4 linked regions of the Homo sapiens genome follow. The protein of the gene in region 4 interacts with the protein of the main gene of each other region in a pairwise test. Each region holds a gene or a part of one and is shown on either strand. Other genes may lie near its edges.

Region 1 (7,928 bases), on a different chromosome or scaffold from region 4:
ATTAGTTAAGAAAACGCCACCGAGAACTAGCTGTGTGATGTCCCAGGGCCTCACTTTTCTCACCTGCAGTGGCACCTGAGAAGGCACTCAGTTCAGATCCTCACATATAGTGAGCTCTTGGTGACGAGTTCTCATTGCCCCAGAGTCCAACACCCTGGCGACAACAGCTTCATGCAGAGTAGGTAGGTATGTCACGCCCCTCTGGACCTCAGTTTCCCCATCTAAAGCTCCCCACCATCACAACGCTACCACCTTGCTCCAGGAACAGGGCAAAGAAACACCACCCCCATTAAATATCTGAGGAGCCCACAACCGAGAGAGAAGCAGGGACTCGCGCAGGGTCACACAGTCAGTCAGGGCAAAGCCTGGGCTGCGTCTCTTGAATGTGACACCAAAAGAGGGGAAGGAGTGCCACTCACCTGGGGCAGACGACGAGGGGGCCAAGGGCAACACTGGCTGGCTAAGGGCAGCAGGTGGAGGCCGGGGCTGCAGGTGTGGTGTGGCCTTGAGCAGGCTCAGTTCCTTCCAGCTGTCTGCCTTGGTGTCATCCTCATCCCGCGGGCTAGTGGCCCTGTCAATGAACTGCAAGCACAGTCACACAGATCAGTGTATATGAAATCTGGGCAGTCATAGCAAAGCCCAGGGCAAAGCAGACCAGCGTGCTGGGTGGAGAAGCAGGTGCCCTGGGCTCCCATGAAGGCCTTGGGCAGTCCCCACCCCTCCCCAGGGCCCCTCTGAAAAGCCCAACCCTGTTGTCCTCCTCTAGGAGCTTCAGGCATGACCCGCCCACTTGGCCTTACCCGCTTCACGGCCAGGGTGGCAATGCCCAGCACAGCAGCCCCGCCCACGCCCAGCACCAGGCGGGCATTGGCCAGGAGGAAGTCCACCATGCTGCCCAGCCCTTCGTCGCTACGCCGCTTCCCCCGTTTCTGGGAGAACTCTGCCATGGTCTGCCTGTAAGAGAGCCAGGGGTGAAGGGGCAGCTCAGGTGCAGGTGGCCAGGCTGGGAGAGGGGCTGCTGTGGACAGGTGCTCTAGCTGTCCTTATGCTGGGTAACAGAGCTGAGCCCATGAGGGGGGCTTTCTGAGAATTTCTCAGAGAAAGGGGCCACCCATCCACAGGGGAGGACACCGAGGCCCTGGGAAATCACGTAAAGTACCTGAGAAAGGGCAGGGATGGGATATGAGCTTGGGTTTTGGGGTCCCAAGCCCCCATCTCTCATGAGGAGATGAGGGAGCTGCCAAGCCCCTTCTCCCAAAGCTGCCTGGAAAGAAGCTCACAAAGGCCCTGAGGCTTGTGCAGGTATAGGAAGGGGCCTCTCTCCCTGGAGCCCACCCTCCAGGACCTCTGACATCACCAGGGTGTCATCATCACTACCCCTATGTTACAGAGCTACAGGCTGCCAGCTCACAAGTGAGTGGTAAGGTCTCCAACCCATGACTGCAAGGCCTCCAGACTCTCATCCGCCCACAGAGTCTGACGGATTCTCCCTGTGCCAGGTGCCCAGGTCCTCAGCAGCAGCCTCATCTGAAGGTTCCTACCCAGAGGGCACAGCAGCCCTCTATGATAACCTCTTCAGAAGAGCCCAAAGTCCAGAGAAGACCAACAATTTGGGGCCCCAGCCAGTCTGGGGGACCACTGGGACCAGTTACCCCCAAATCTTGACAGGGTAGCCCAAGAGGCAGAGCTACCAAGTCAGAGCACGGGCAGAGTAAGACGGCCCAAGCTGCCCAGGCAGGCCAATGCAGATGTGCTTGTCAGGGTTGAAGCCCCTTTGGCAGGGCAGAAAGGGCTGCCCAGTGCCTCTGTACAGGGGGCTCTCTGGGCCTCTCAGTCTTGGGACAATGTGTAGGTAGTGGTGGGTGATGCTTCTCAACTGCCGGAAGGCCAAGCAACACAGAAAGTAAGGTGAAGGCCTGGGCCCCAGCCTGTTTGCTCACCTGTAAGATGGCATAGGCAGCAGTGAGGGGCAGATGTGGGCAGCCTTGAAGTGTGTGGCTGGGTGGGGGCCAGCACTTGGGAAGTGGAGGCAAAGATCTCCTAGGGCCCAGTCCACATTCCTCACGTTCTGCGAGGGGGACACTGCCCTCAGGCCCTGGGAGCTGAGAAGGGCTGGGACCTTAGGACATCAGTTAGACACCAAGCAGAACTCTCCCGGGGAGGCCTGAGCAGATGACCATGAGGTCACAGCCTGCCCGGGCACCAAGGACTTCTACCTGCCCTGCCAGAGTGTGGGTGCCAGGGGCCCAGTTGCCAGGTGACCAGATGCCTGGAGTAGCTGAAGCCTGAAGCGCTGTGTGACTCAGCCCCGTACACCCGCCCATTCGCCCCAGACTAAAAATAAGACGGTCTCTGGGGCGATCCCAGGCCAACCGGGTGACCCGCCACGGCCCCAGGGCCGGTTTCAATCTCCTCATCGGTGACTCGGGGATCAATACTGCCACCCGCCCCCAGAGAGACCAGGAATCTACTTTGCAAACTGTAAAGCGCTTTAAATACTCCCAACCTGTCTAAATTGGGACTCAGCCCCATCTCTGGCGGGGTCGCGCAGGCCTCAGTCCACAGCCTTCCAGCTCCGAGAAGCAGGAAAGGGCACGGGTGGCTGAAAATAACCCAAGTTTGCGCAGCGGGGCCCTGGAGGCCGTTTGGCCTTCCCTCCTCCGCCAAACCTGCCTGCCCTGGGCCCGGGCGGAGCAGGCCGCGCAGCAGCCCTAGGTGGGCGGGTGACGCCCCGTTCGCAGGATAAACCAAGAGACCGAGAGGGGAAGGGGGCTGGGCTAGGATTCGAACGCTGCCCTTGGTCCCCCAAAGGTCCCCTCCCCGCCTTCCCCAGCGGTGATCGCGGGCCACGCCCCCGATCTGCGTTCCGTCGCGCGCCAAGCCCCGAGCCCGGTGACCCTGGGGGCCGCCCCGCCGCGCTCCAGCTGTACCTGCGTCGCAGCTTCCGCACGACGACCGGAGGAGGCAGCGGGACCACGGCCCCGGAGCTCAGACCAGCCTGGGAATGGAACGTGAAGGACCCTGGAACCCAACGACTAGGGCCCCGGGGGCAGCCGCGGACTTCGCAGCACGCAGACAAGCAGGCCCTAACTCCAATCGGAGCGCTCGAGTCCAGCGCACAGGTGCCAAAATACTGCGCGGTTCAGCCAATGAAGGGCAGGTCCCGCCCCCCAGCCGACAGCCGCACTCCCTCTGGGGCGGGACTCCCTGACGCAGTCTGGATTTAAAGGTGCAGGGCTGCATTCCGAGACCGCGAACAGGTGACGTGACAGGCGACCCTCCAGGACGTCTGTGCGTTGTAATGTGAGCCTCCGGTGTGGAGGAAGCTGTCTGGGCCCCGTTCCTTCTGGGGACCAGGTAGAGAGGCTGCACATGGCTAGAGGCCCGGCACATCCAACCTCTTAGGTCACCTCTGCGAGAGAGTGTCTTGGTGGCCTCATTCTTACCTGTGGGCCTGAGGGGCACAGCGCCTACCCCTGCCACCTGCTCTGTGCGAGCTTGTGTGGGCCATTCTCCACCTGGGCATCAGTTTTTCTCCTGTAAAATGGGGACACTAGACCCCCTCCTCCCCTGCGAAGGATGGTTGGGCATATAACAGCTGTGGCTCATTTATTGGGGTCCTGCTATGTGTCAGCCAGGGCGAGCCCCCTTGAACAGCAAGGACCAAGACGGATGCTTCTCTTCTGGAGCCTCCCTTTGTAGGGGGGTACGAGCACAGGGGTGCTGACACTAAGTGGGAATAATAACCTGGCGCACAAAACAAAACAAAACGGAATAATAACCTGCCACTCACTGAGCGCCTGCTGTATGCTGCGAGCTACACGTGCATTCTTTGTTAATTTGCTCATGGTGACAACCTTAGAAAGTATTTTACAAATGAGGAAACTGGGTAGGGCGCGGTGGCTCACGCCTGTCATCCCAACACTCTGAGAAGCTGATACCAGAGGATCACTTGAGGCCAGGAGATCAAGACCAGCCTGGGCAACATAGCAAGCACCCCGTGTCTACAAAAAGTATAAATAAGGCCGGGCGCGGTGGCTCACGCCTGTAATCCCAGCACTTTGGGAGGCCGAGGCGGTTGGATCACGAGGTCAGAAGATCGAGACCATCCTGGCTAACACGGTGAAACCCCGTCTCTACTAAAAATACAAAAAAAAAAAAAAAAAAAATTAGCCGGGCGTAGTGGCGGGTGCCTGTAGTCCCAGCTACCCGGGAGGCTGAGGCAGGAGAATGGCGTGAACCCGGGAGGCGGAGGTTGCAGTGAGCCGAGACTGCGCCACTGCACTCCAGCCTGGGCGACAGAGCGAGACTCTGTCTCAAAAAAAATAAAAAATAAATAAAATAAATAAATTTAGCCAGGTGTGGTGGCCTGCGCCTATAATCCCAGGTAGTCGGGAGGCTGAGCCCAGGAGTTCGAGGCTGCAGTGAGCTATGATCACACCACTGCACTCCAGCCTGGGCAGCAGAGCAAGAAGACCCTGTCTCAACAAAACAAAAACAACACATGAGGAAACTAAGTCCAGAAGCAGGAGAGCTAGGACCCGAGGATCCAGGTGTCTCACTACCACCGGTCAGCCAAGTACAGGCACTTCCTGGGCCTCTGCGCCCCGGGGCCGAGGTTTAGAATCTCTCTGAGGTCAGGGCCAGCTTCATGTGCTGCAGCAGCGCAGGTGACGGTGCCTCGACCAGCGGCCGTTACGGCCCCTGCCCTGGGGCGCTGGGACTTAAGCCTGGAGATCGTGGAAGCCTCCAACTCCAGCACAGGGGGGGCCCGCACTCCTTGGTGCCTCCGCAGTCTTCGAACAGACGGGGAAACTGAGGCCCTAAGAGGCCTAAAGCCTACACTTCCCCGCGGAATGCGGCGGGCGCGGGCGGGTTAAAGGGGCGGGGCCGGCGCTGGCCCAGCCCGCGGCTCCCCCCAGCGCCCTCGCCCCGGCGCTCCCTAGCCCGGCGCGGCCCGGCAGCGAGAGCGGCGCCATGGAGGCCACCGGGGTGCTGCCGTTCGTGCGTGGCGTGGACCTCAGCGGCAACGACTTCAAGGTGAGCCGGGCCGGGCGCGTGCCGGGCCTCCCTGCAGGCCTTCTCTTCCGCCCGGCCCGCTTGGCCTCCGCTTCCTGTCCCGCTCGGCTCCAGGCCCTGCGTGTCCCAGGGACTGCGGCCGGGGCGGGGTGGGGCTCTCCCCTGGCCAGGAATGGACCTCCGAGGCCTCCGCCCAGTGCCTGTACGGGGAGACCGAGGCTGGGCAGGCCGGGGACGGACGCTTGGGCTCGGAGTCCCGCCGGGGGCCCGGCCGGGAGCCCCCACCCCGCGTCCGTGTTCTCGGTCTAGGCTGGATGGTGGCCTGGGGATCGGGCGAGCCTCCCCGCCCCTCTGAGGTCACACGCCCAAGCCAGGCCCTGACTCAGGGATGGCTGCCCGGCTGCCCAGGGGCGGGTGTGGAGCCGACTCATCACTGCCCTCTCCCCGCCACCGCCACCCGCCATACTGTGTGATCCTGGGCCTCTCAGATCACTTCCCCTCTCAGAGCCTAGGCTTTCTCAGCCGGTGAAGGGGCTTAAAAGTCTCCTCCTTGGACGCAAGGAGTATAGTGAGATTTGTTGGTGTGGAGAGTGTGTCAGGCCGGTGTGCCAGGTGCTGGGTGGCAGTTGTCTGAGCAGCTGCTGGACTGAGAGAAAAGGGACCGGAGCCCAGCCCTCCGCAGCCAGTGGGTGGGGCGGCGGGGTGGTTCCAGGACTCAAGAATGAGACAGGCATTGCCTGACCAAAGGGGAAGCAGAGAAAGAGAGGGAGGGAGAGCTGGCTGGAGGGTCAGCCTCACCTTCAGGGTGGGTGACTGGCAGGGTCGGCCTGGGTTGTTGGTCTGGGGCTGGGGCCGAGGAGGCAGGTTTTTCCTGCGTTTACCTGCCTGTGTACACACCTTTGACCCCAAGTACAAGTGGCTACACCACTTTTCCCTGACCCCATCCCCACCACCCTAACCTGGGGTCCCCGTTCCTCTTTGCTGAACTGGGAGAGTCCGAGTCACCAGCTGGGAATGTGGCGCTAGGGGGAAAGGAATATCAGCCGCAGGCACTGAAGGCACCTACTGCCCCAGACTTGGTGCCACAAGGGCTGGAGGTGCCGAGGTGGGCGTTCACACACCAGGGGAGTGCAGTGATGCTGGCCTGCCCTGCAGGGTGGGGAGCCACGGTCTCCGCAAGCAAGGGTTTGACCCTGGCCGTGAGTTGCCAGTGTGCTGATGGCAGGATGAGGGCACAGGTGGCGCCTTTGCAAAGGCTTGGAAGGGGGATCCCCCACCCCAGGCAGCCAGTCAGAGTGTGGAATGCTAGGTGAAGGAATTTGAGCCGAGCTAACCACAGAGCCGGATGCTGGGCTTTCACCTGAAACAAGCCAGTTTTGTCCTGGCCCTCCTGGGGCCCAGAATCCAGTAGGAGAGACAAATCTTAGGCCAACACTTTTGTCACGGGGGGGCTTAAAATTCCCATTCTATGGGTGAAGAAATTGAGGCACAATGATGAAATGACTTGTCTGTGTTCTCACAGATGGTGAGAGTTGGTTCTGTGGCTCCCCAAAGGCTCCCATGGGCTGGAGGAGCCATAGAAGGTGGTGAGCAGGGGCTCTGTGCTTCACCTTGACATCCTTCCCCCAGGGCGGCTACTTCCCTGAGAATGTCAAGGCCATGACCAGCCTGCGGTGGCTGAAGCTGAACCGCACTGGCCTCTGCTACCTGCCCGAGGAGCTGGCCGCCCTGCAGAAGCTGGTAAGGGGGTTTGGGCGGGCAGGGGAGGGTCCCTGTGGATGAGCCAGGTGGGCAGAGCCTGTGGAGAAGGCAGACAACTTCTCCAGAGAGAGGAACACCGACAGCTATGAGCAGAGCTGGAAGAAAGGGAGTGGGCACCCTGTCCAGGGAGGTGTGCAAGAAGAGGCCGGGTGAGTGAGGGAGGGAAGCTGCAGGGGTAGTTGGGCCAGTGTGGCTGAGGCCTTCCTGGATGGTGCAGAGTTGTGGAGGCAGGCAGGGACTCTGGACACCCCACCCACCCTGCTGAGCCTGTGCTCCCCATTCCGGCCCAGGAACACTTGTCTGTGAGCCACAACAACCTGACCACGCTTCATGGGGAGCTGTCCAGCCTGCCATCGCTGCGCGTGAGTGCTGGCCGGGAGGCCACCGAGCTTGGGGTTGGGGCCAAGGTCCGGTCAGGGACGTGAAGCCTGGGCTAGACACCAAGCTGGGCCAGCATTTCTGCCCACCTCCGTGTCAGGCTCAGAGGCTCAGGTGTCACAGAGGGGCCCTCTCATTAGAGGTTACAGCAGTGCCCTGTGTAAAGTAACCCATGTGGATCAGAGAATTCCATCAGGAAAAAGGTAAAGAAATCCAAAATCTTACCAGCCGTTATGGACAATAACTACAGTAATAATAGCCAAGACTGGCTGAGCAATGTTCCCACTATTCTGTTAGGATTTTTTCATATGCTCTAGCCCTCCACTAATGTTGCAGAAGAGAAACTTGGCCACCAAGGCAGATTACTTGCCCCAGGTCACAGAGCCAGGCAGTGGTAGAGCTGGTGTTGAGTGGGGTTTGGCCGGGAGCACCGTGTACCTTCTACCCAAGACTTGAACGTCCCAGAACATCAGGCCCTTGGCCAGACCCTGTAGGCCTCAACGAGGGCCATCCCATCTGAAGTCAGAGCCCTGGAGATGTTTAGGGCACAGCTTCTGACTTGGACTCTCTGAGTTCAAAGCTGGGCTTTGCCACTTCCTGGTGATGTGACTTTGTACAAATCGCTTCTACCTTCTGGGCCTCCTCTGCAAGTGCAGTGGTTGGGAGGGGCAGCAGTGACCCCGTGAAGCAGCAGCAGGGTGCCGCACAGGCATTCAGACTGGAGAAGTGGCGGGGCAGCTCCGGTGACTCCCGTTGTCACTTGGAGTCAC
Region 2 (7,936 bases), on a different chromosome or scaffold from region 4:
AAAAATAAAAAATATCACAAGAGATGCAAGGCCCCTGTCTATGCTTGGTAAGCACTGGCTGCTGTGGACCCCAGCATTTCTGGCTGTTTTCCTCTTGTCTATGCTCTCAGACCACACTCCGGCACCCACCTGACTGTTGAGCAGACAGAGAAGTTGATGAAAGTGGGCATCCTGTATGAGCAAGCCTTTATCTTCTGGCTTCTCAGACAGCAAGTGAGAGAGCCGGATAAGTACCATTGCTGCTTGATTGCTGTCCAAGTCGTGACTGCCACCAAGTAGCTCCAGGAGCTCCTCTGGCCTTGTGGCCTTCTTGATGAGGTGGTCCACCTGCTTCTCTATGTAGGGAGTAGATGCTCGTTCCTTCTCCACCGGCTCCATCAAGGAACCTGGGAGGTGGGAAATGGGTGAGGTGGCTGAGGAAGTCAGAGTCTTATGGGCTACCCAGGCAAGTCTCAGTCGGCCAACTGGAGCCATGGCAGGGGCCTGACGAGCAGCTTCTCTCAGGAGGCACGTGCATCGCTTTACCAGGTGAGCTGCCATGATGTCCTGGGTGGCAGAGAGACAAGACTCCTAGCAAGTGATTCCAAACCCTGAAGAGAAAAAGGAGAGAGAAGGGGCTACTACAGGGGCAGTTCCTGACTCACAAACTTGAGAAATGAAATAGTCAAAGCCACTCTATCTGTAAAATCAGACTAAGTCTTTCTTGACAATCCATAGGTATGTGATAGTATTTTCTAAAGCAAAAGTCTCACAGGATTTTTGTTTCAGTACAGAATGCCATCAAATATCAAAACTCAGGAACATTACAGCCTGGGTGGGAGGGTTTCCATCCTGCTTGTAATTTGAAATCACCTAGGATGTGGTTCAATAATTCAGATTCCCAGGTCCTGCCCAAGGCCTCCTAAATGATGGCATCTCTGCAGACACGACCTAGACAGCATTAATTTTTTTTTATTTTTTTATTTCAAGGGTAACCAGGATTAAAAATTACGGGCTTGGCCAGGCGTGGTGGCTCACGCCTGTAATCCCAGCACTTTGGGAGGCCTAGGCGGGTGGATCACTTGAGGTCAGGAGTTTGAGACCAGCCTGGCCAACATGGTGAAACCCCATCTTTACTAAAAATATAAAAATTAGCTGGGCATCATGGTGCACGCCTGTAATCCCAGCTACTTGGGAGGCTAAGGCACAAGAATTGCTTGAACCTGAGAGGCGGAGATTGCAGTGAGCTGAGATTGCACCACTGGACTCCAGCCTGGGTGAGAGACTCCATCTCAAAAAAAAAAAAAAAAAAAAATTCACATTCCCAAAGCCTCTGTGGATATATTTTAACACTGTAGACATAGGTGTGAGCCTCTCGAAACCAAGGTAGATTACATCACTAGCCTACTAAAACCCCCCCACCAAATTTCTAACAGCAAAAATTCTGAACCAATAATAAGAAGCACTTCATAACATGGCCCAGAATGATTTTCTCAGTCTTAGCTTTTTCTGCCTCCCAGCAACACAAGGCCCCATTTTAAACAGGCCTTGCACTTCCACTTCACCTTACAGGGCTTGTTATCTGGGTCTCCTCCTCCCCCTATAAGACCCTTTAAAATACATCTCATCCTTCCAAGGCCAAACTCAATGTTGCCATCTCCAGCAATGTGTTACATATAGCCTTGATGTTGCTTTTAACAATTCTATCGGCCAGGCGCAGTGGCTCACGCCTGTAATCCCAGTACTTTGGGAGGCTGAGGCGGGCAGATCACGAGGTCAGGAGATCGAGACCATCCTGGCTAACACGGTGAAACACCGTCTCTACTAAAAATACAAAAAAATTAGCCGGGCGTGGTGGCGGGCACCTGTAGTCCCAGCTACTAGGGAGGGTGAGGCAGAGCTTGAAGTGAGCCGAGATCGCGCCACTGCACTCCAGCCTGGGTGGCAGAGCGAGACTCTGTCACAAAAAAAAAAAAAAAGAAAAAAAATTCTATCAGCTAGTCTAGCTCCCTACGGTGATTACATGATCCAGGGAAGACATGCGACAAGGGCAAGATAAAACGTTCACCTAGGCCTCATTTCTGCCAAAGCAGAATGTACGTTTGATCTTTCTCCACTTCCTGGAACTTGGTATATGGCCAGCACATTTTCTTTTTATATGAGGGGATTAAAGCAGCTGTAAAAAGCTTAGTCTAACTCCACTTAAAGAAAAAAAAAAAGAGAGAGAGATCAGAGAGTCGGAGTATTTGCCCAAACGCAACATCTACCACTTCCTGAGCCTAAGCACAGTGTAGAAATCTTTCCGACTTATTTTTTTGAGACGGAGTCTCGCTCTGTCGCCCAGACTGGAGTGCAATGCTGCGATCTCGAGTCACTGCAACCTCAGCCTCCCGGATTCAAGCGATTCTCCTGCCTCAGCCTCCCAAATAGCTGGGACTACAGGCCCGCGCCACCACACCTGGCTAATTTTTGTATTTTTAGTAGAGACAGGGTTTCACCATGACCTCAAGTGATCCACCCGTCTCGGCCTCCCAAAGTGCTGGGATTACCGGAGTGAGCCACCGCGCCCGGCCGCCTTTCCAATTTTTTAAGAGCCCTAAGAGCAGTTTAGCCGAGTAAACGGAAGCCCAGGAGCCAGACTTGAGTTTAGGCAAACAGCAATCCAAAACTTTAGTTCTAAAATGCAGAGAGAAAACAACTTGCACTAAGTCACGAAAACTGGCTCGCTGGGGTCATGGACGGTCAACAGGGGCGGCGTCTTCCAGGCCTGGCCGCGCGGGCTAGAGAGGAAGCGTGCGCACTGGCAAGCCAGCACGGAACGAGCAGACGGCCAGGCCCACGGCATCCCACCGCGTCCCAGCCTGCTCCCCAGTTCCACCGCATCCCAGGACCTTCCCAGCCACGCCTGTGTTGTGCACTCGAAACCCACGATCAGCCGCCCCTTCTCCCCGTGCCACAAGACCTACGCAGCGAGCACCACCGCTGACCTCCATCCGCCGCCCTAACTGTCCCCGGAACCATGAGGTGCGCGGCGCGCTTCCCTACGTCACTCGGAGCGCCGGCGGAAACGAGACGAGCCTCGCCCCGCACGTCCGGAAGCCACGCCTCCAGCTTCCGGCCACACCTTTCGGCGGGTGACATCTTTGCTGAGGGCTCAAGCGGAGCGATAGGTCATGGGAAACTTAGAAAAGATAAAGAACCTAGGAAGAAAGGCTTCGGTTGCCCCCCGACCAGTACGCCATCCTCATACGGAGTGCGGGAGACGACCCTTTGTTGTCGGTGCTGTCACCCTATCCCTCCCTGCTTGCGTAGGCGTAGGAGAGTTCCTAGGGCGGTGGAAGACTGGGCTGGTGGAGTGGGATAGGCGACGTTGAGGCCTGTGGGGGCTGGGAGGACGAGTGAGTGGAGACTGGGGAACTCCAGAGCGCCCACTTGCAGCTGGATTTTTATGTGCAATTTTCCTGATTTTTAAATAGTGGTGTTTAATTACAAAGTAAAGTGCAGGATAGCCCAAACGAAATGTATCTGAGGTCTATATATGGACTTGATTAATTTTTACTTCCTGCACAGCCTTTTATTTTCTGTGGAGTTAATAATTACTTGGCTACGCACGGTGGCTCACGCCTGTAATCCCAGGCCTCGGTGGGCGGATCACTTGAGTTCAGGAGTTCGAGACCAGCTTGGCCAACATGGCGAAACCCCGTCTCTACTAAAAATACAAAAAAATTAGCCGGGCGTGGTAGGGCGCACCTGTAGTCCCAGCTACTAGGGAGGCTGAGGCATGAGAATCGCTTGAATCCGGGAGGTGGAGGTTGCAGTGAGCAGCGATCTTGCCACTGCACTCAGCCTGGTTGACAGAGCAAGACTCTGTCGCAAAAAACAAAACAAAAAACATAAAAATAAATAATTACGTTTGTTTGTGTTTGTAAACTAAAAATAAAATTGTAAGCCCCCCAAGCACTGAACGGACCTCCTCTTAGCCAAGGAGACCCCAGAGAAACCTTAAAAACTGAGTTCCCAGCCATTCTGGAAAGGGAGGTTGAACACCCCTTGTTAAAGTAGAGATCATAAGACTAACAGACTTTGTGGTAGTAAGATACCAAATTATAAACAAGACCTAAGGCCGTGCAAGGCAAGGGTTAAGTCAAGCTTGCAGACCATCAATCTTGCTGAAGAGGTCTTTTTTGACCCAGTGTATTGTGGCTGATTCTGGCATACTATCTTAAACATTCTTTTCTGCTGACTCCAAATTTTACACAGAGCCTCACTCTTTTAACCAGTTGCAAATTAAAAAATCTCTTGGTCAAGCTGGCTGAGGTGGGAGGATCACTTGAGGCCAAGAGTTCAAGACTAGCCTGGGCAACATAGGGAGACCCTATCTACCCCTACCAAGAGATCTATCTATCTATCTATCAATCAATCATATATCGTGTATATATCTATGTATTTGAGTCCACATATAACTTGTAAACCCCCCACATCAAGACATCCTGTCTTTTGGAGCCAAACCAGTGTATACCTTCCACACATTGATTTATGTCTTTGCCTGTAACCCCTGGCTCCCTGAAATGTATAAAACCAAACTATAATCTGACTGCCTCGGGAACACTTAAGGCTTTTTGGGTTTGTATTTTCCTGGGGCTGTGGTCACTCATTGGCCCTGAATAAACCTCTTTAAGTAATTTACAGAGTTTGATTTTTCTGTTAACAGTTAATTAAGATTCCATGTATTTATCACAAATTCTACTCCAAATCCTTCACAAGTTGTCTGTCAAAAGACAATATTACAACAGATTTATAGATCTGTTAAAAGAAAAGCTTTAGACAAACTAATGGAGTTTTGTTGAGGAAAGAACCTTGAAAACATGCTAAGGGAAAGAAGTTAGACACATGAGGCCACATATTGTATAGTTCCATTTATATTTGCAATGTCCAGAGTAGGTGAATTGATAGAGTCACCTATGTGATGTTGAGGTGGGGAGAATAGGGAGTGACTTCTGATGGGTTTGAGGTTTCTTTTTGAGATGGTAAAAGTGTCCTGGAATTGGATAATAGGGATGGTTGCACAACACTGAGTATACTAAAAGCCACCTGTGACTTAAGAAATATATATGTGGTCTCTGCATAGAGCTTCTAAAACCCTTGTAACTTTTTTCTTTAGGTTTTCATTAAGGCATTTTATAAAGATAATATCATTTGTATTTATAAAATGTTTGCTACATATACATAATATATATAGTGTATATATAAATTTAAATATGCTCAAGTTACAAAGCAGAATTATGAAAAGAAACCCGTGAACCCATTACTCCACTTAAGAAATAGAATATTACCAATATTGTTGCAATTTTCTGAGAGTTTCCTCTTCTTTCTTATCCCTCCACCCCAGCTAATTGCTATCCTGATGTTTTTCATTTGTGTATGTGTATTTTAATTTAATTTAAAGTTCCAGGATACATGTGCAGGACGTGCAGGTTTGTTATATAGGTAAACGTGTGCCGTGGTGGTTTGCTGCACCTATCAACTCATCACCTAGGTATTAAGCCCTGCATGCATTGGCTACTTATCCTGGTGCTCTCCCTTCCCCCTGTCCCATGGACAGACCCCAGTGTGTGTTGTACCCCTCCCTGTGTCCATGTGTTCTCATTGTTCAGCTCCCACCTATAAGTGAGAACATGCAGTGTTTGGTTTTCTGTTCCTGTGTTAGTTTGCCAAGGATAATGGCTTTCAGCGCCATCTGTGTCCCTGCAAAGGACATGATCTCATTCCTTTTTATGGTTGCATAGTAGTCCATGGTGTATATGTACCACATTTTCTTTATCCAGGCTATCATTGATGGGCATTTGTAAAACACTTGTAACTTCTTGAATGATAGTGACATCTTTTGTTATTCATCATAAGCCCCTTTTAACCATACCTGAGTTTATGCCACTAATGAAGTGGCTTTTGGAAGATGGGAGCTGGTTATCAGAGAAACCAACCATGTGATTAGAGGGCTGAAACTTTTAGCCCCACCTCTCAACCTCCAGAGAGAGGAGAGAGGCTGGAGATTGATTTGATTACAGTTTATCTAAAAGAAGAAACGGAGGCAAAATTAATAAAAGTGGAGAGTTTACATTTGAACCAAAATGAAGACAGCTGCCCAGAAGACTCACATGCAAGTAACCTGGGATATGAGCTTCATTAAGCCTTTGTTACAAGCAGGTTTTTAAAGGTAAAAAAGGGGACTAGGCATGGGGCAGATAAAAAGTTGTTTGTCAGGAATTCTCATTGGTTTACAGAAATAACATTGATTAGTGATGGCTATACATTGTTGAATGATAGGGTATGAGTTATGTTGTGCAGCATGCAGTATTGTTAGGTTAATTTATAGCTACTTGGGGGGCAGTCAGTCTAGAGTCCACATAGCAAGCAGCTTCAAAAGATGATTATTCAGCAAGAGGGAGGAAGTGAGATGTGACTGCTGTCTCTTTCTCATGCCTTTTTTTGGGCCTGATAATTTAGAGGAAGCTCATATTCCTCATATAAAAACATTTCTTTTGACTGTCATTACTAATGGCCAATGATTTTATCAATTATACCTAGGTAATGAAACTTCATAAAAACTTATTAAACAATGGGGTTCAGAGAGCTTCCAAGTTGGTGAATGCATCCACATGCTGGGAAGGTGTCACCTCCCAAACCCCATGGGAACAGAAGCTCTGATGCTTGAGATTCTTCCAGAAGTGTTGTGATTAGAGGAACAGTTTCCTTTGGAACCTGGCCCTAAGACTTTTTTTTTTTTTTTTTTTGAGATGGAGATTCGCTCTGTCGCCCAGGCTGGAGTGCAGTGGCGCTATCTCGGCTCACTGCAAGCTCCGCTTCCTGGGTTCATGCCGTTCTCCTGCCTCAGCCTCCCGAGTAGCTGGGACTATAGGCACACGCCACCATGCCCGGCTAATTTTTTGTATTTTTAGTAGAGACAGGGTTTCACCGTGGTAGCCAGGATGGTCTTGATCTCCTCATCTCGTGATCCGCCCGCCTCGGCCTCCCAAAGTGCTGGGATTACAGGTGTGAGCCACCGTGCCTGGCCCCTAAGACCCTTTTAATCTAGATGTTCATCTGTATCCTTTAAAATATGCTTTGTAATAAACTAGTAAACATAGATGTTATGATCTGATTGTGTCCCTCCGAAATGTGTATGTTCAAGTCTAATCTGCAAAGTGTTGATATTAAGAGGTGGGGCCTTTGGGAGGTAATTAGGTCAAGAGGATGGAGCCCTCGTGAATGGAATTAGTGCCCTTATAAAAGAGGCCCGAGGGAGCATGTTTGTCCCTTTCTCCTTCTGCCATGTGAGGACACAGTAAGAAGTTACCTTCTATGAGGGAGAGAGCCCTTACCAGACACTGAAGCTGCTGGTGTCTTGATCTTGGACTTCCCAATCTCCAGAACTGTGAGCAATACATTTCTAGGGTTTATAAATTACTCAGTCTATGGTATTTTGTTCCAGCAGCCCAGATGGAATAAGGCAGTAGATAAAATGTTTCTCTGACTTCTGTGAGCTCTTATAGCAAATTACTAAACCTGAAGAGCAGGTCATGGGAAACCTTGCTTTGTAGCCAAGTCAAACAGAAGTGTGGATAGTCTGGGACCCACTACTTGTGACTGGCACCTGAAGTGAGGGCAGTGTTGTGGGACTGAGCCCTTAACCTGTGAGGTCTGTGCTAACTCTAAGTAGTTAGCGTCTGTTGTGGTTTGAATACTTGACCCCTCCAAAACACATGTTGAAACTTCTCCACTTGCCATGCTGGTTTTAGCATAGAAAGTCTCATGTCTTGGGAAGCTCCCCTACCCTTCCTCGCCTCAAGTCCCAGGCAAACTGGGATGCTTGACCACCCTGTTTCTGTCTGCTCCTGTCTATTCACCTTCCCTCCAGTTGGAATCAAACCACAGTTGATATGAGCTCTGGAGTGCAGAA
Region 3 (7,643 bases), on a different chromosome or scaffold from region 4:
GGGCCCGACATCTTAACCTTACTGTCTCCTGTTACTCCTTATGACGCCAGCCCCAGGATTACAGTCTTTAAAATGGGGGTTAATGTCTTACCCAGCCTCCTTCTTCCCCTGGCCTTCACCACCTCGGTGGGCTAATAACCGTGAAAATAAAAGCAGGAGCAAAGCTTTGGGTGCTAACTGCATGTCAGGAACTATGCCACGTGCTTTTTTTATGGATTCAGCATCGTAGAGATGAGACACATGGGACTCAGAATGTGGTGGTAACAGCATTTGAACTCAAGTCTCTCTGGACATAAAAAATCCTCATCGTAATAGCTCCTACTGAGACAGTCATGGTCATTGCTGATTACTGGGTGGTCACTGTGGGTAACGCAGGAGCTGACATATATCATTCTCCCCACTGCTTAACTGCTTACAACGATCCCTGCATTTATCATTAGGCCCATTTCTCAGAAAAGTAAGTAGAGGCTAAAAAGTTGAGAGCACGCAACAAACGTGGGATTGGGTCCCAGTCTGTGGCGGCTCCCTCAGCCCTCGGCGTGGCCCTCACCTTGCCCTGGGGTTTCACCCCAGCTGCGGTGAACACTAGCAACTTCTCCAAGTTCTCCCAGCCGGGGTTTGACTTCCGCATACGCTTCTTCGGCAGCTCAGCATCTCTCTTCTCATCTTGGGACACCAGAGGGGTGCCAGGCGGAGTATCTGGCTGGGATTCTGGTGTGCGGGTCTCTTCCCAGCGCAGGGTCAGTGGGTGGAGGCCATTGACCAAATACAGTGTGTCCCCCACCCCCAGAGAGCCCTCCAACCCCGGCTTCAACTCCTGGGTCCCGGTAGTTGAGGGGTTAACTCCCAGCTGCAGAAAGAGAGGGAGGAGCTGGGACTGGCTCCGCCCCCACCGGGAGCTTCCTCCAATCAAATACCCAGCGGAAAAATCAGCCCTTCTCCACCACTATCAGACCCTTAGGCCCCACCTCTTCACTTTGGAACGGGCTTTGGAACGGTTACAGGTTTTCAGCCTTGTCCGAATCTTTTTTTTTTTTTTTTTTTTTTTTCCCCTGGAGATATAGGCTTGTTTTGTCGCCCAGGCTGGAGTGCAGTGGTGCAATCTTGGCTCATTGAAACCTGTGCCTCCTGGGTTCAAACGATTCTCCTGCCTCAGCTACCCGAGTAGCTGGGATTACAGGCACCCGCCACCATGCCCCGCTAATTTTTGTATTTTTAGTAGAGATGGGGTTTCGCCATGTTGGCCAGGCTGGTCACAAACTCCTGATCTCGGGTGATCCGCCCGCCTAGCCTCCCAAAGTGCTGGGATTACAGGCGTGAGCCACCGCGCCTGGCCGCCTTGTCCAATTTCTAAGGTCTTGGACAGGTACCCACCCCACTGAAACAGGCAACACTTCTTTCTTTACTGGACACATCCCCTTCTCTCCCAGCCATATTTTTTCTTTTCTTTTTTTGAGACAGGTTCTCGCTCTGTCACCCAGGCTGAAGTACAGTGTGGTGATCACTGCTCACTACACCCTTGACCTACTGGGCTCAAGGGATCCTCCCGCTTCAGCCTCCCGATTAGGAACTACAAGGACGCGCCACCATTCCCGCTAATTTTTTAGAGAGACAGGTTTCACCATGTCGCTCAGGCTGGTCTCGAACTCCTGGGTTCAAGCGATCCGCCCGCCTCGGCCTCCCAAAGTGCTGGGATTACAGGCTTGAGCCACCACGCCCGGCCCCAATCAGATTTTCCTAATGTACCCCTTCACTGACGGCTTGCAATTCCTCCCCAAATCCCATCCCCAGGCCTTGCTGGCCCTTGCAGAGGCACTGATACCTGTTTCACTGCCACTGTCCGGGTCTCAGGATCTGCGACCAGCTCCACTGAGGATTGGAGGGGTGGAGTCAGGATTTGCATCCTTGTGTGATTGGGTCCCTCATTTCTGGGGAGTGTGGCCTGCTTCAGGCTATAGCATCCAGGGAGTAAGAGGCAGTTTATTTCTACATGGGATTGGCTCCTTGACATGCAGTAGCCAGATAGTGGCACTAGGATTGCCTGACACTGGTCCTTGCAAGGGACAGGGAGGTACTTTTCTCTACAGAATTGGTTTCCTCCTTGACAAAAAATGTGGCTAGATATAGGTCCGGGGCTTGGCCTGTTACCATCCATCCCAACCTAGCGACATTTACTTTTCTCCACAGGATCATTTTTCTCTTGACGAAGGTCGTCGCCTGTTTCTGGATTTCCCGATGGCCTGAGCATCATCCGCGCAGTGAACATCCTCCCTAAATCGGCTCGATCCCCTCTCCCCCAAAGGATCTAGCTAATTCTAAATCAAGCACAAACTTTATCTTCCTGTACTCCCTAGAGAGCACCTTCCGACTTCGGGGCTGGCTGCACCACTGCAATCCCGCGTAGCAGCCAAGCGTCCCTCTGGATTGTTCCCGCTTTTGCAGCAGGCCACACCCCCTCCAGCTCAGGCCCCGCTCACCTTGAGTTCTGGAGCACTTCCGGTCCGTAACCTGGGTCAGGGGTCCCCTGCCCAGGACCAGGGCTTGCCCGTCCGAGGGCAGGAAGATGGGGGGCGCTCCCCCAGGGGGGCTCTCGAGCCACAAGCGGCCCGGGGCCTCCACCTCGCCCATCCTGGGTGCCGGCCTGGGGAGCAGGTAAACGGGCTTGAGCGGCGCACAGCCCCAATTTGCTGCAGGAAGTCCCGCCTCCTCCCACATCCACTAGAAAGTTTCCCCACCATTAACTGCTCCGGAAGTCCCACCCGCTCGCCTTCCGCGGGTCGACCCGTTTCCCAGGCGACGACGCGTGCTCCATCCCTCCCCGAGTTGCAATCCCCACTTTCCAGCGTACAGGCAGAGAGCCTCGCACATGCCTCCGCCCCGCCCCGTACTCACCCGGGACCGCGGCTTGGGCTCACGGCCACTTCCGACCAGGGAGGTCCTGCCCGAGGTGCCCCGCCTGCAACCCGGCCGGCGGCGGTCGGTTCCTCGGCGGACGGAAATGACTCGTCCCCTCGTGGGTGGGGGGCGGGGCCTGGCCTCCTCCCACAGCAGCCACGCCCCTTCCCCGACTCCCGGCCCCCAGGGTCTCTCGGCAGCCCTGACCTTCATCTCTCTTGCTGCAACGCGAGGCTCAGGCCGGTAGCGGGGACTGGATCCTCCGTTAGCAGATTTGCCTCTTTCCACCTTGACTTCTAATTTTCATCCCAGGGAGGAAGATTTTTTTCCCATCTGATGGTCATTGTCAGTCGAGGAAACCTCCGCCCCCGACAGCGCCCCTAAGTCCTTCTTTGGCTTCACCCTCGATGTTCTAGTTTCCTCATCTATAAAAAGGATAATCGTTTCCGCTTCGTGGGGTTACCATGACGATTAAAGGAGCTAACACGTGACAAAAGCTTTAAAAAATGGGTGGTAGTGAGCCCTGTTTAAGTCTTTTTTTTTTTTTTTTTTTGAGACGGAGTCTCACTCTGTCGCCCAGGCTGGAGTGCAGTGGCGCGATCTCGGCTCACCTGCAAGCTCCGCCTCCCGGGTTGACGCCATTCTCCTGTCTCAGCCTCCCGAGTAGCTGGGACTACAGGCGCCCGCCACCACGCCCAGCTAATTTTTTGTATTTTGAGTAGAGACGGGGTTTCACCGTGTTAGCCAGGACGGTCTCGATCTCCTGATCTCGTGATCCGCCCACCTCGGCCTCCCAAAGTGCTCAGATCCGTTTAAGTCTTATTTAGTGTTAGCATTCTTTCGGTAGTGGTCTGGTGGGACTACGTTTACCTAGTCCTAATTTCGGACGAGGTTCCACCTGCTTTCTAACCTCCAGCCATTTTTTTTTCCCTTTGGAGAAGGGGTCTCACTGTGCTGCCCAGGCTGATCTCGACCTCCTGGTGTCATGTGATCCTCCCGCCTTGGCCTCCCAGCGTGTTGGGCTTATAGGCGTGAGGCACCAAGCCCAGTTGCTCCAGTCCTTTTATAATAGAAGACTCCCGGCTGGAGTTCCTGGCTTTGCTGGTGAATATGTGGGCTCTGTCTCCAACACTCACCTCCTCAAGATTGGGTTCCATGGTCACATAAGACTGGGATGCTCTCCTCCACCCCATGAACCTGTGTCTTCATATCTATAAAATGGGCACAAAGCCAGGCGCCGTGGCTCACGCCTGTAATCCCAGCACTTTGGGAGGCCAAGGCGGGTGGATCATTTGAGGTCAGGAGTTCAAGACCATCCTGACCAACATGATGAAACCCTGTTTCTACTGAAAATACAAAAATTACCCGGGCGGCAGTGGCGCGTAATCCCAGCTACTCGGGAGGTTGAGGCAGGAGAATCGCTTGAACCTGGGCGAGAGTGGGACCCTGTCTCAAAAAAGTAAATAAAATGGGCACAGTAATTCCAACCCCCAGCTATTCACTGATAATCAGACGCTGCCATTCGGTTTCAGAAAATGTTGAATGAACACTCACAACACACTTCACATTTATCTCAGAGGTAAAACTCTTTAATCTCAGAGCGCCCCTCCCAACTGCCGATCCCCCAACCCCTCACTCTCTCCCCCACACCAGGGCCGGAGAGTGAGGGCCCCTGCCCCCCACCTTGGGTGGACGAGGGCCCTTTAAGGCACCTGTGGAGGTGGGGGGCGAGGGGCGGGAGCTGGTACCATCCTGGATGCAGGGACGGGCTTCGATTGGCAGGCTGTTGTGGGGATGGATGGAACCAATGAAAGGGGGTGCCAGAGGCAGGGACAGTTTGGGGCCATCCCTGAGGGGGTCAGGGAACAAGTTGTCGGGACGTGGGCAAAGACGACCCCAGTCCCCGTAGTGTAAAGAACGTAAATTGAAGGCCCCGGGCCAATTCTGGGAAGAGGAGGGCTTGGCCACGCCCCCAGGAAGCTGGAGCCAATTGGGAGGGAGAACTCAGGAAAAGCGGACGGTGACTATGTAGAGACTGGTCAAGCCCTTTACAGGATTTGAGCCAATCAAAAAAAGAGCTGTCCAGCGACTAGGGGATGGAGCCAATGCCGTGCGAGCAAATCCCTTGTCGCTAGGCGGAAAACAAAGGAGTTGACCCATTTAGAGCTTAGAACTCAGCGAGCCAATCCCTTAATAGAAGGAATCTGTCGCTAGGCGGAGAGAGACGACAGACCCAATCGGGAAACGGGACAGATGCCGCTCCTCGGCGCGGCAGGTCGTGGGCTGGAAGGACGGCGGGGATTGGCAGAGGCGGGACAATCTTGGGAATGGGAGACGCAAGGAGGCCGGTCCCGGATCGGCCTCAGATTAGCAGGCCCCGGGAGTGGGGCGGGGGCGTAGTGTGGGACGGGGCGGACGCGGCCCGGGGCGCTCCCTCCCTGGACTTCAATATTTCCGCTTCAGCTTCTGGAAGTCGCTGGTGTTAAGCCGCGGCCGTGGCAGGTCCCCGAAGACCTGGGTGTCCTCGGCCTCTCGCAGCACCAGCGCGCGCATGCTCGCCGCGATGCGGTCCAGGTCGGGCGAAGAGGGCTGCGGGGACGGCGACGGGGCGAGGTCAGCGCCGGCAGGGCAATCCCCCTGCACCCACACGCGGTCCAGGGGTGCACCCGGGCTCCAAGCCCACTTCTAGCACGTCCCTGCCCTGCCACCTGTGCCCTGCGATGCCCACTGCCAGCAGTGCCCCTCCCCGTCTTGCTCCACGTAGGAACCCTTCTACCCGGTTCAGACACCTCCTCCACGAAGCCTACCTGCCCCTCTCCCTCTCCCCTTCTTGGCCTAGGACATTGCTTCCTACACAGTGGAAGTGCTGTTGCCTGCTAGCCATTAAGGCTGAGTGCACCGTCTCATGTCTGAGGATCTGGGCTGGGGTTTCAGTCATGTTCCAATCAGACCTCTGCCGCTGACAAACTATGAGCAAGAGGTTTTGCTTCCCTAGGCCTCAGTCTCCCCTTCTGAAAAATGGGGCGGATAACAGGGTCTCTGTGAGGGCTGAGATAATCAGCTGTTACTGCCTTATCATGTGGCCACTGCGCTACAGAAAAGATCCCTCGCTGTGTCAGCCCCCGCCAAGGAGCCTGCAGTTCTGGCACCTAGTACTGCCTCCACTACAGCCCCCGTCACCCGGAGCTGGGCCTGTCCCCTCGCAGGATGGGACCCGGAGACCCAGATCAGGAACTGGACCTGAGCCCAGTGGGAGACCAGCCCCCGGGCACAGCACGCAAGAGGCCAGAGCATTCAATTAACTGTGTTGCCATGAGTCGCAAGCACAGAGAGCAGCAGCAGGTGGACCCCGCCCGCACCAGGCCCTGTTCCTGGTCTTCAGTGCTCACTGCTTCATTGAGGGAGGATGCACAGAAAAGGTCACCACTGTGACTGCTGGTTTGCATATAAGGACACTGAGGCTTGAGGGGGGGACTGTGGGGACCCAGGCCTCCTCCCTCAAAGCCCACAGCTCCTTCCTGAAACACACCTGGGTTCCAGTCCCAGCTCTGCCTCTCAGGGAAGTCACATGTCCCCTCAGTGCCTCAGTTTCCCCTCTGCTTCAGGGAGGCTCAGTGAAGGGTGAGGAGGACCCACCTAGGCCAGCAGAGCCCAGCCCAGGAGCTTCAAACAGGGGTTGCTACAAGGGGTGAACAGGGGACCAGGGGGTGGGACAAATTCTGCAAAGGGCTAGGAATGTGCAGGGTGGGGATGGGAGGTGATCTGAACCCTCCAAGCCTCAGTTTCTCCACTGGAGGGCATGCCAAAACACCTGTGCCTTGCCCAGAGCAGGTGTTCTATAAATAGAGACGCTCCTGGAAAGGAGAGGCCTTCTCTATAAGGCACTAGGACACATGGTAAGGCTGCAATTGTTAAAACTGCAAGGCTCGTGTCCAAGAACTCGCCTCTTGAGGTTGAGGGGAGGATTCAGTTAGCTTATGGGTGGAAAGCAGCATCCATGCTGGAGGGCTTCCTGGAGGAGGCGGCTCAGAGCCCTTCCAGCTGCCCTCCCTACCTCCCCACATTTGCCCCTCACCGGCCCATTCTCCTCATCTGATGACCGCGCCTCTGTCCTCTTCTCCTTGAAGCCCCAGACGGGCACAGACACAGGCAGGGACTTGGCGTACTGCTGTGTGGGTAGGGCTGAGGCTGGGGGCACTGAGCAGGTGGGGGGGCCGGCGGGGGTCTCCTCGCTCAGGCTGCCATCTGAAAGAGAGGGTGGACTTCAGCTTCTGTCCCTGCCTTTGTGTCGGCCGTGTGCCTGCCCTCAGGTCGGGAGGGGAACAGCCTGGGACACTCACCATCTGTACTCTCGGGGTCTGACTCACAGAAGGGGGGAAGGTCCTGGAGGGTGGCGTCCTCATCCATCACAAAGAGCCCTGTGGATGACCTGAGTTAGAGGCCCAGGCCAGGCAGCACCTAGCCATGCTCCATGTGTCCTCCTCCTCAGCCACGGCCACTGCCACAGCCACCACCTCCACCTCCCTGAAGCTTCTGAGACCCATTTCCTTCACCTCAAAAACAACTTCCTCTAGCAGCCTGCCTGGTCATCGGCAAAAACCAACCCAGTTTCTATGGATCTGCCACCCTCTCAGCTGCACACAACGGGCTGCTAACATGAAACCTCTACGATCTGTTCGGGACAATGTGACTCAAAACACAGCCTTAGAGAAACATGCAATGACTATGACCTCTGTTTCACAAATGGA
Region 4 (7,422 bases):
GTTCATGGAGGCAGAGGGCAGTTAAGGGGTAGATTTTCTTTATTTGCATCAAGGCCATTTGTTAATCACTGCAGAAGAATTGGTTGCAAACAAAAAATGGAAGCTTTATACTTTTTCCAGTCTATGCCCCTGCCTTACCTAGCCCAGACACTACATCTGAGGAGTTGAGATTTACAAACATTTGGGAAGTTTTTGCCCTAGAGTTTTCTGTACATTTTAGTAGATAAAGGGGATATTCCAATAAGGAGAAGGTATGTGTTTCGGAAAGTACTTTTCTACTCCTAACAACAAACGCCTCAGAATTTGAATTTGAAGTCCCACTGCCCTGGGGGACAAAGGTCCTCTGAGTCAGAAGCCACTAACCAGATGATCCAGCAGCAGGACTGAGGGTACCAGGGCAAGCACCAGCCCATGCCATCACCCACACAGAGCCCCAGGTATGCTTGACCATTGAGGGCCAGGAGGTTAACTGTTTCCTGGACACTGGTGCGGTCTTCTCAGTCTTACTCTCCTGTCCTGGACAATTGTCCTCCAGATCTGTCACTATCTGAGGGGTCCTAGGACAGGCAGTCACTTGATACTTCTCCCAGCCACTAAGTTGTGACTGGGGAAATTTACTCTTTTCACATGCCTTTCTAATTACGCCCGAAAGCCCCACTCCTTTGTTAGGGAGAGACATTCTAGCAAAAGCAGGGGCCATTATACACTAGAATTAGAAGGAAAAAGGTTAAATATACAGACTCTAAGCATGCTTACCTAGTCCTCCAAGCCCACGCAGCAATATGGAGAGAAAGGGAATTCCTAACTTCCGAGGGAACACCTATCAAACATGAGGAAGCCATTAGGCCCCCCAAATTCTCTTTACCTCTGAATCTACGTCCTCTGATCCCTGCCTAAAGATAATTTTGTGGGGAAGAGGATTTGCTTGTGTCTCTCCAGGTGACACTCAGGTGTCTGTGTGGGTGCCCACCAACCATCTGAAGATCTATCACGAGCCACGGCATCTAGTGGACCCACATGTAGAGTACAGTGCGAATTGAAGGTTTGAAAAGCCTCGATTTGCTTTCTCTATGCCTTCTGTTAATCAGAAAAGGCCTGTTTCTCATTATCAGTGGCCTCCCGGCTACAGCCACAAAAGTTTTTGCTTCTGTTTCAGTAGATTTACTAACGTGGGGGTGAGGGTATGCTTGTGTTTTTGCAGGAGATGAACAAACCGTGTGGATACCCTCAAGATGTGTACGACCATGGAATGGGAGACTGGAGGTACCCATGGATCCCAACCTTGGACCGGGTTCCCCCAGTGTGAGCCATGAGCCAGTTGAATCTGAATGCGAAGAAGGAATGAGGACCGACCGGAGTCACGATGCTTAACGGGCCAATGCTTTCTGACTCAGCTCCTCTCTACCCTGAATATGAGAGACCCTAACAGTTAGACAGGAATATCGTCACCCCTATTCAGCATGAAGAAGTTACAGAAGATGGACCTTCATCCTTCTGCAACCCCTAGGATTAAGGGTCTTCTTGTAAAAGGGAAAGGGGAGATATGTGGGAAGCATTCAAACCAGAGCCATGCTAGTAATAATGATAGCTAGTAATAATGATATCTTCTCTTTTACAATAAAGAGAAGGGGGGCATGCTGGGAAAAAGCTGAGTGTTGGGGGGAAACTGAGGCAGGGCTTGCATAATGTCCTCTGGAATGTGTCTAGACTTGCTGGCTCCTTGCTTCTAGCCTTCCTAGGCTCCTAGGCACCTATTCCCATTATCTCAAGTAGCAGAACATGTTCCATATAAATGCTAAACTGTCACAGCTGTAAATCATGTGCTTAATGCAACATGACCTCCACATTCTCACCACCTGTTTCTTAGTTGGATTACCAATAAACACTGTGGGCTCCCAGAGCTCGGGGCCTTCACAGCCTCCGCAATAGCAATGGCCCCTGTTGTCCCACATTTCTCTCTCAAACTTTTTTCTCAATCTTTTGACTCTGCTGGACTTTGTCACTCCCACAACCTGGTGTTGGGTCTGATCACCCCAACAATTTTGTGCATGTCCTTGTGTTCAGGAGTCATTGGCTCTTGAAAAAACTATGTGGCCAGGAAGCAGGAAGAGCTAGGAAGTAAGGTTTTTTTGTTTGTTTTTTGAGACAGAGTCTCACTCTGTTGCCCAGGATGGAGTGCAAACGAGCGACCTCAGCTCACTGCAACCTCCACCTCCTGGGTTCAAGCGATTCTCCTGTCTCAGCTTCCCAAGTAGTTGGGACTACAGGCGCCCGCCACCATGCCCAACTAATTTTTGTATTTTTGGTAGAGACGGGGTTTCACCATATTGTCCAGGCTGGTCTCAAACTCCTGACCTTGTGACCCACCCGCCTTTGCCTCCCAAAGTGCTGGGATTACAGGAGTGAGCCACCGCGCTCGGCCTATACTTGAAAATCTTGAAAGCAGTTATGTCAGATATGTGAACCAGAGAAGCCCATCTTGAATAGCGGCTGGGTAAAATGAGGTTGAGACCCACTGAGCTGCATTCCCAGACAGTTAAGTCATTCTAAGACACAGGATAAGATAGAAGGTCAGCACAAGATACAGATCATAAAGACCTTGCTGATGAAACAGACTGCAGTAAAGAAACCGGCCAAATCCCACCAAAACCAAGGTAACAAGAGAGACCTCTGGTCGTTCTCATTGCTACACTCCCACTAGCGCCATGGCAGTTTACAAATGCCATGGCAATATCACGAAGTTAGCCTATATGGTCTAAAAAGGGGAGGCATGAATCCACCCCTTGTTTAGCATATCATCAAGAAATAACCATAAAAATGGGCAACCAGCAGCCCTGGTAATAGACAGCCCTGCTCTGCCTATGGAGTAGCTATTCTTTTGTCCTTCTACTTTTTTTTTTTTTTTTTGAGACGGAGTCTCGCTCTGTCGCCCAGGCTGGAGTGCAGGGGCGCGATCTCGGCTCACTGCAAGCTCCGCCTCCCGGGTTCAAGCAATTCTCTGCCTCAGACTACCGATGTTCCTCTACTTTTTAAATAAACTTGTTTTCACTTGCCCTGAATTCTTTTTGCGCAAGATCCAAGAACCCTCTTTTGGGGTATGGATCCGGACCCCTTTCCCGTAACACTTACGGACATACTCTCTTATTCAACAGAAACATAGTTTTATTCTATAGATTTTACAATCTATTTTCTGACCTTTTAAAGTTAAGGACATAAGGATAAGACTTCTCATATTAGTATGAACAGGCCACATAGAAATATCTTCTGCCTAAAGGAAAAGGATGCTGAGCATTGGACCGTTTCATCACAAGAAGGCGCGACTTGCTTTCCTAGGGTTCCTGTGGTATTTGTTTTTATCTAATTGAGTTTAGATAAAATCTCTACTGAGGCAGTAGGATGGACAATGAAACTTTTTGAGGATCCACCTTTTAACTGAAAGATTTTAGGGAGGAAATGGAGTGGGCAAAGTAATCAAAAGAACAGGCATTCTCATTACCATCTTACCAAGCCTAGAAGCAAACAGAAGAGCAAAACCTATCACTTAATGACTTCTGGAGACCATATTAGACAGGCAGCCCTGATTTTTAATCTCCTTTCTTAGCATGGTGGAAAATGAGAGAGAGAAAAATGCCACTTCCCCATTTCTTAGTGTTTGTTCATCCAGCACGAGCCGGAGAACAGTAAACGCTTGTTCAATGGTTTCACTGTTCACACAAAACTGGAAAAATGGGTTGCATTAGCTATTCCTTTTATAAATAAGATTTCACTCTTTCAAACTCCTAGCTGACCAGTGAACTGAGTAAAGAAATAGCTCTCACAAGGGCAAAGGAGTGAGGCAGCCTCTTGCTATTTCTCCTGAGACGGTCTGAAATACAGCTCCTCGCTTTAATCCTGAGGCAGGTGTTTGTGTCTCCGGATGAGGACACCCAGCTGGGAAGGCTAGCGACGCCCCCAGGGCCACCTCATGGGTGGCAGGGCGCTCTTCGGAGCACGGCCACCTGCCCGCAGGAGCCCTCCGCTCTCCGATTCCAGGCGAGGGGAGGCGCATTCGGGGCCTCGACTTCTGGGAACCCGGGGTGCCGCGGACCCGCCCAGCAAGGCCCCTCGCGGGGCCCGGAGGACGCCAAGTGCAGGGTTCAGTGGTCGTGCCCCAGTCGGGTCTACACTCAATGGCTGTGCGCCAGCTGTGGGCAGGGGGTCCACACCCGCGCTGTGTCCCCGCGCGTTACCACGGCGCACCTCGCGGACAGTGGGAAGGGATAGCCCCACCATCAGCGCCCACTCCGCGGACTTCACGGACCACTACCGGGTCCGAGAGAAAGGCTGGTGAGCATGCGCGCATTGCTACGGCGGCCGCGCTGACGCACAGGAAGCGGGCGGGACCGGACTTCCGGCTGGTCTGTGGGGTTTCGGGTTCGGGGTTTCCTGGTGGGCGTCAGGGGCAGGCAACAGAGTGGCGGCCGCTACGGCCCTGTAACAGGGCCATGGAGAAGCTGCGGCGAGTCCTGAGCGGCCAGGACGACGAGGAGCAGGGCCTGACTGCGCAGGTAGCGAACTTGCGCCCTCGTCCAGTCCCGGGGCTGCCCGCTGGCCCCGGCCGCACTGAGGACCGGCCGAGCGGGTGGGGTGGGTGCGAGGCCGGGGGTCTGGGACTCCTCTGCCCGGCTGGTTGATTTAGGAGGGCTCCGCCTGCTTCCTGGGTAGAATTTGAGAACTTTCCAGTTTTCCATGCGGTCTACTTAAACCCACTTTGAGGCCCCCCCCCGACTCTCCCATCTGGCCTTCTGACTTAGGAATCCGCTAACGTCTGCCCTCGCTTTCCCAAATAATCCATCGCTCCCACGTACTATTTGGTTTTCTGAGCCTGGTGCGGGGTCTGGCCTCGGGCTGTGCAGCGTAAGTAGCTATGCAGGGCATTTATCCTGCAAGCTGCAGTGAGCCGAGACCCTAAAGCTTGTTGCATCTGTTTGTCTTTGGAGGTAAAGGTGGTGTTATGTGTGTGTTTGCTGGGGGGTGGTCTTTTGGAAATAGGGAGACTGGAGGAAAAATAAACAGGACATTGGTAAGTGAAATAATATTGAATTAAAATTTTTCTGTTAAGGCAGTGAGCCCTGGTAAGAGATTTTTTTTTTTTTCTTAATAAAAGCCCTTGTGTCTGCGCCTTACCAGCGAGACTTGATAAGGGTTACTTCCTCCAGCAAGAAGGTTAAAAGTAGCAGTGGAGCAGGAACTGCGGTGTAAGTTTTTTTGTTATTGCATGCGATTATATTGCACGTTATTGTGTGCTGTCGCAGAAGTTGGACGTTTAAAATTGAATTGTATTTCATAAGGATCTTCTATTTGTCTCTCCTGACTTCCTTGTCATTATACTTACTCAGCACTTGGTGTGGGTAGAGTTCTGGGCTACAGTTTTGGGTTCAGAGAGTGTAAGACAAGTATCTGTTCTCATTGCACTCTGTAACTCTGTATATTACCACAGCCACATGTGGCCAATGAATTTTTTTTTTTTTTTTTTTTAGATGGAGTCTTGCTTTGTCGCTCAGGCCTGGAGTGCAGTGGCGTGATCTCGACTCGCTGCAACCTCTGCCTCCCGGGTTCAAGCAATTCTCCTGCCTCAGCCTCCTGAGTAGCTGGGATTACAGGCACCTGCCACCATGCCCTGCTAATTATTTTGTGTTTTTAGTAGAGATGGGGGTTTCACCATGTTGGTCAGGCTGGTCTCGAACTCCTGACCTCAAGTGATCCGCCCACCTTGACCTCCCAAAGTGCTTGGATGACAGGCTTGAGCCACTGCGCCTGGAGCAATTAAATTTAAATTAATTAAAATTAAATAAAATTTAACATTCAGTTCCTTAGTCACAGCAACCACATTTCACATGTTCAGTAGGCACATGTGGTTAAAGGCTACTGTATTAAACAGCGCAGATACAGAACATTTGCATTGCAGAAAGTTCTATTGGACAGTGCTACTCTAAACTTTGGAGATGCAAAGGTAATATCACTTATCTTGAGCCCACTGTCTAGAGGGGAGAAAGATATGTGGAGAAGTAATCAATCAAAGATTAGAGTGACTGGCTGTATAGACAAGTGCTGTGAGTTCAGAGGAGGTGATCGTTCATTAACAAATATTCAAGTTCCTGCATATGTTTGACATTGTTCAAGATGCAGGTGTTAATAACAGTGACCAGTGCAAATACCTCTTTCACATGGAACTTAAATTTTAATTGGAGGAAACAGTGAATAAACAAGTATATAATGTGTCAGACAGCCACAGAAAAAGTCAGAGCAGGTTGAGGAGGTTGGGGTTGCCATATTACTTAGATAAGGCCTCCCTGCCAGGGAGTCATGTGAGCACAGCTCAGAAGAGCTGCTGGGATGTCTGAGCATCCTGTGAATAAAAGCCTCCAAGGCAGATACAGAGTCCCAAGTGGTGTGTGGTCAGCATGTTCAGGGCCAGTAAGGAGGCCAGAGGGGCTCTAGCAGCGGGGCAGAGAAGAGGGACAATTGTAGAAGAAAAGGTGAAGCAGGAAGGGGGATTCTCAATTGTGAGGGTTCTCATAGGCCATAGAAAGGATTTTAGCTTTACTCTGAGTGTGATAGGAAGCCTTTGGGTTTAGAGCAGAGTGGTGGTGTGACCGACTTGGATTTTAAAGGATCACTCTGGCAGCTCTGTGGAGAACAAACTGTAGAGGCAATGTTAGAAGCCCAGAGACTGGGCTGGAGACAAGTACAGTTGTCCTGGCAAGAGATGACTGTGGCTCAAATCAGTGATAGAAGTGGTTTAAAGAGCAAAAAAGCCTGTTTAAAAAACAAAAAAGTGGTCAGATTCTGTAAATGGTCTGAGTGTACAGCCAGCAGGCCACACTGTTGACGGATTGGATGTGTGAGAGTGGGAGGAGGCAAGGATGCCTCATGGCATTCGACCTGAGCATCTGGAGAGGTGGAGTTGCCATTAAGTGACTGTGGGAGGAGCAGGTTCAGGGAGGAAAATCATTTCAGTGTGGACGTGAAGTCTGAGATCCAGGTAGCATCCAAGTGGAGATGTGAGGAAAGCAGTTGGACGTAACACTGTAGAGTTTGTGGGAGGAAATAGGAGAGAGATGAGATCGTCAAGATGAGGTCCAAGGTTTGACCTCTGGTTTTCTCTAGGTGTGTAGAAGTTTAGAGGATGAGCAGAAGCCGGCAAAGACAGCTGAGAGGCGTGGCGAGAGAAGGAGGAGGAGAACCAAGAGAGAAGGATGCCCCAGAAAGTGAGGGAAGAGAGTGCTTTAGGAAGGGGATGGGACCCAGTACTGTTGATGGGTCTCAGAAGTTAAGAGCAGATTACCCGTGGAGGTTATCAGTTGTCACTTCCACGAGAGCAGTCTTGGTGGCTGGATGGGGTCAGAGGCCTGATTGAAGTCAGGGGAGAATAGAAAGAAG

The links.
Region 1: the proteins of SFT2D1 (region 4) and MIEF2 interact in binary tests that used the Homo sapiens proteins (3 or more experiments, as listed by UniProt).
Region 2: the proteins of SFT2D1 (region 4) and TBRG4 interact in binary tests that used the Homo sapiens proteins (3 or more experiments, as listed by UniProt).
Region 3: the proteins of SFT2D1 (region 4) and PNKP interact in binary tests that used the Homo sapiens proteins (3 or more experiments, as listed by UniProt).

The regions. Positions count from the first base shown.
Region 1 is NC_000017.11:18,255,740-18,263,667, reverse strand, and holds the start of MIEF2 (mitochondrial dynamics protein MID49), read right to left. Parts: upstream 3,007-7,928; 5' UTR 2,931-3,006; exon of another isoform or gene 2,533-2,930; coding exon of another isoform or gene 2,507-2,532; exon of another isoform or gene 1,955-2,506; coding exon of another isoform or gene 1,941-1,954; intron 955-1,940; coding exon of another isoform or gene 948-954; coding exon 801-947; intron 583-800; coding exon 420-582; intron 1-419. Other genes in the region: FLII (protein flightless-1 homolog), read left to right, coding at 4,978-5,040, 6,649-6,759, 7,071-7,142. UniProt on the Homo sapiens protein: Mitochondrial outer membrane protein involved in the regulation of mitochondrial organization.
Region 2 is NC_000007.14:45,108,698-45,116,633, forward strand, and holds the start of TBRG4 (FAST kinase domain-containing protein 4), read right to left. Parts: upstream 3,001-7,936; 5' UTR 2,973-3,000; coding exon of another isoform or gene 2,946-2,972; intron 591-2,945; 5' UTR 547-590; coding exon of another isoform or gene 541-546; coding exon 130-540; intron 1-129. UniProt on the Homo sapiens protein: Plays a role in processing of mitochondrial RNA precursors and in stabilization of a subset of mature mitochondrial RNA species, such as MT-CO1, MT-CO2, MT-CYB, MT-CO3, MT-ND3, MT-ND5 and MT-ATP8/6. May play a role in cell cycle progression.
Region 3 is NC_000019.10:49,864,577-49,872,219, forward strand, and holds the start of PNKP (bifunctional polynucleotide phosphatase/kinase), read right to left. Parts: upstream 3,001-7,643; 5' UTR 2,893-3,000; intron 2,642-2,892; 5' UTR 2,629-2,641; coding exon 2,478-2,628; intron 1,870-2,477; coding exon 1,823-1,869; intron 851-1,822; coding exon 551-850; intron 1-550. Other genes in the region: AKT1S1 (proline-rich AKT1 substrate 1), read right to left, coding at 5,341-5,484, 6,971-7,140, 7,236-7,313. UniProt on the Homo sapiens protein: Plays a key role in the repair of DNA damage, functioning as part of both the non-homologous end-joining (NHEJ) and base excision repair (BER) pathways.
Region 4 is NC_000006.12:166,339,544-166,346,965, reverse strand, and holds the start of SFT2D1 (vesicle transport protein SFT2A), read left to right. Parts: upstream 1-4,420; 5' UTR 4,421-4,484; coding exon 4,485-4,547; intron 4,548-7,422. UniProt on the Homo sapiens protein: May be involved in fusion of retrograde transport vesicles derived from an endocytic compartment with the Golgi complex.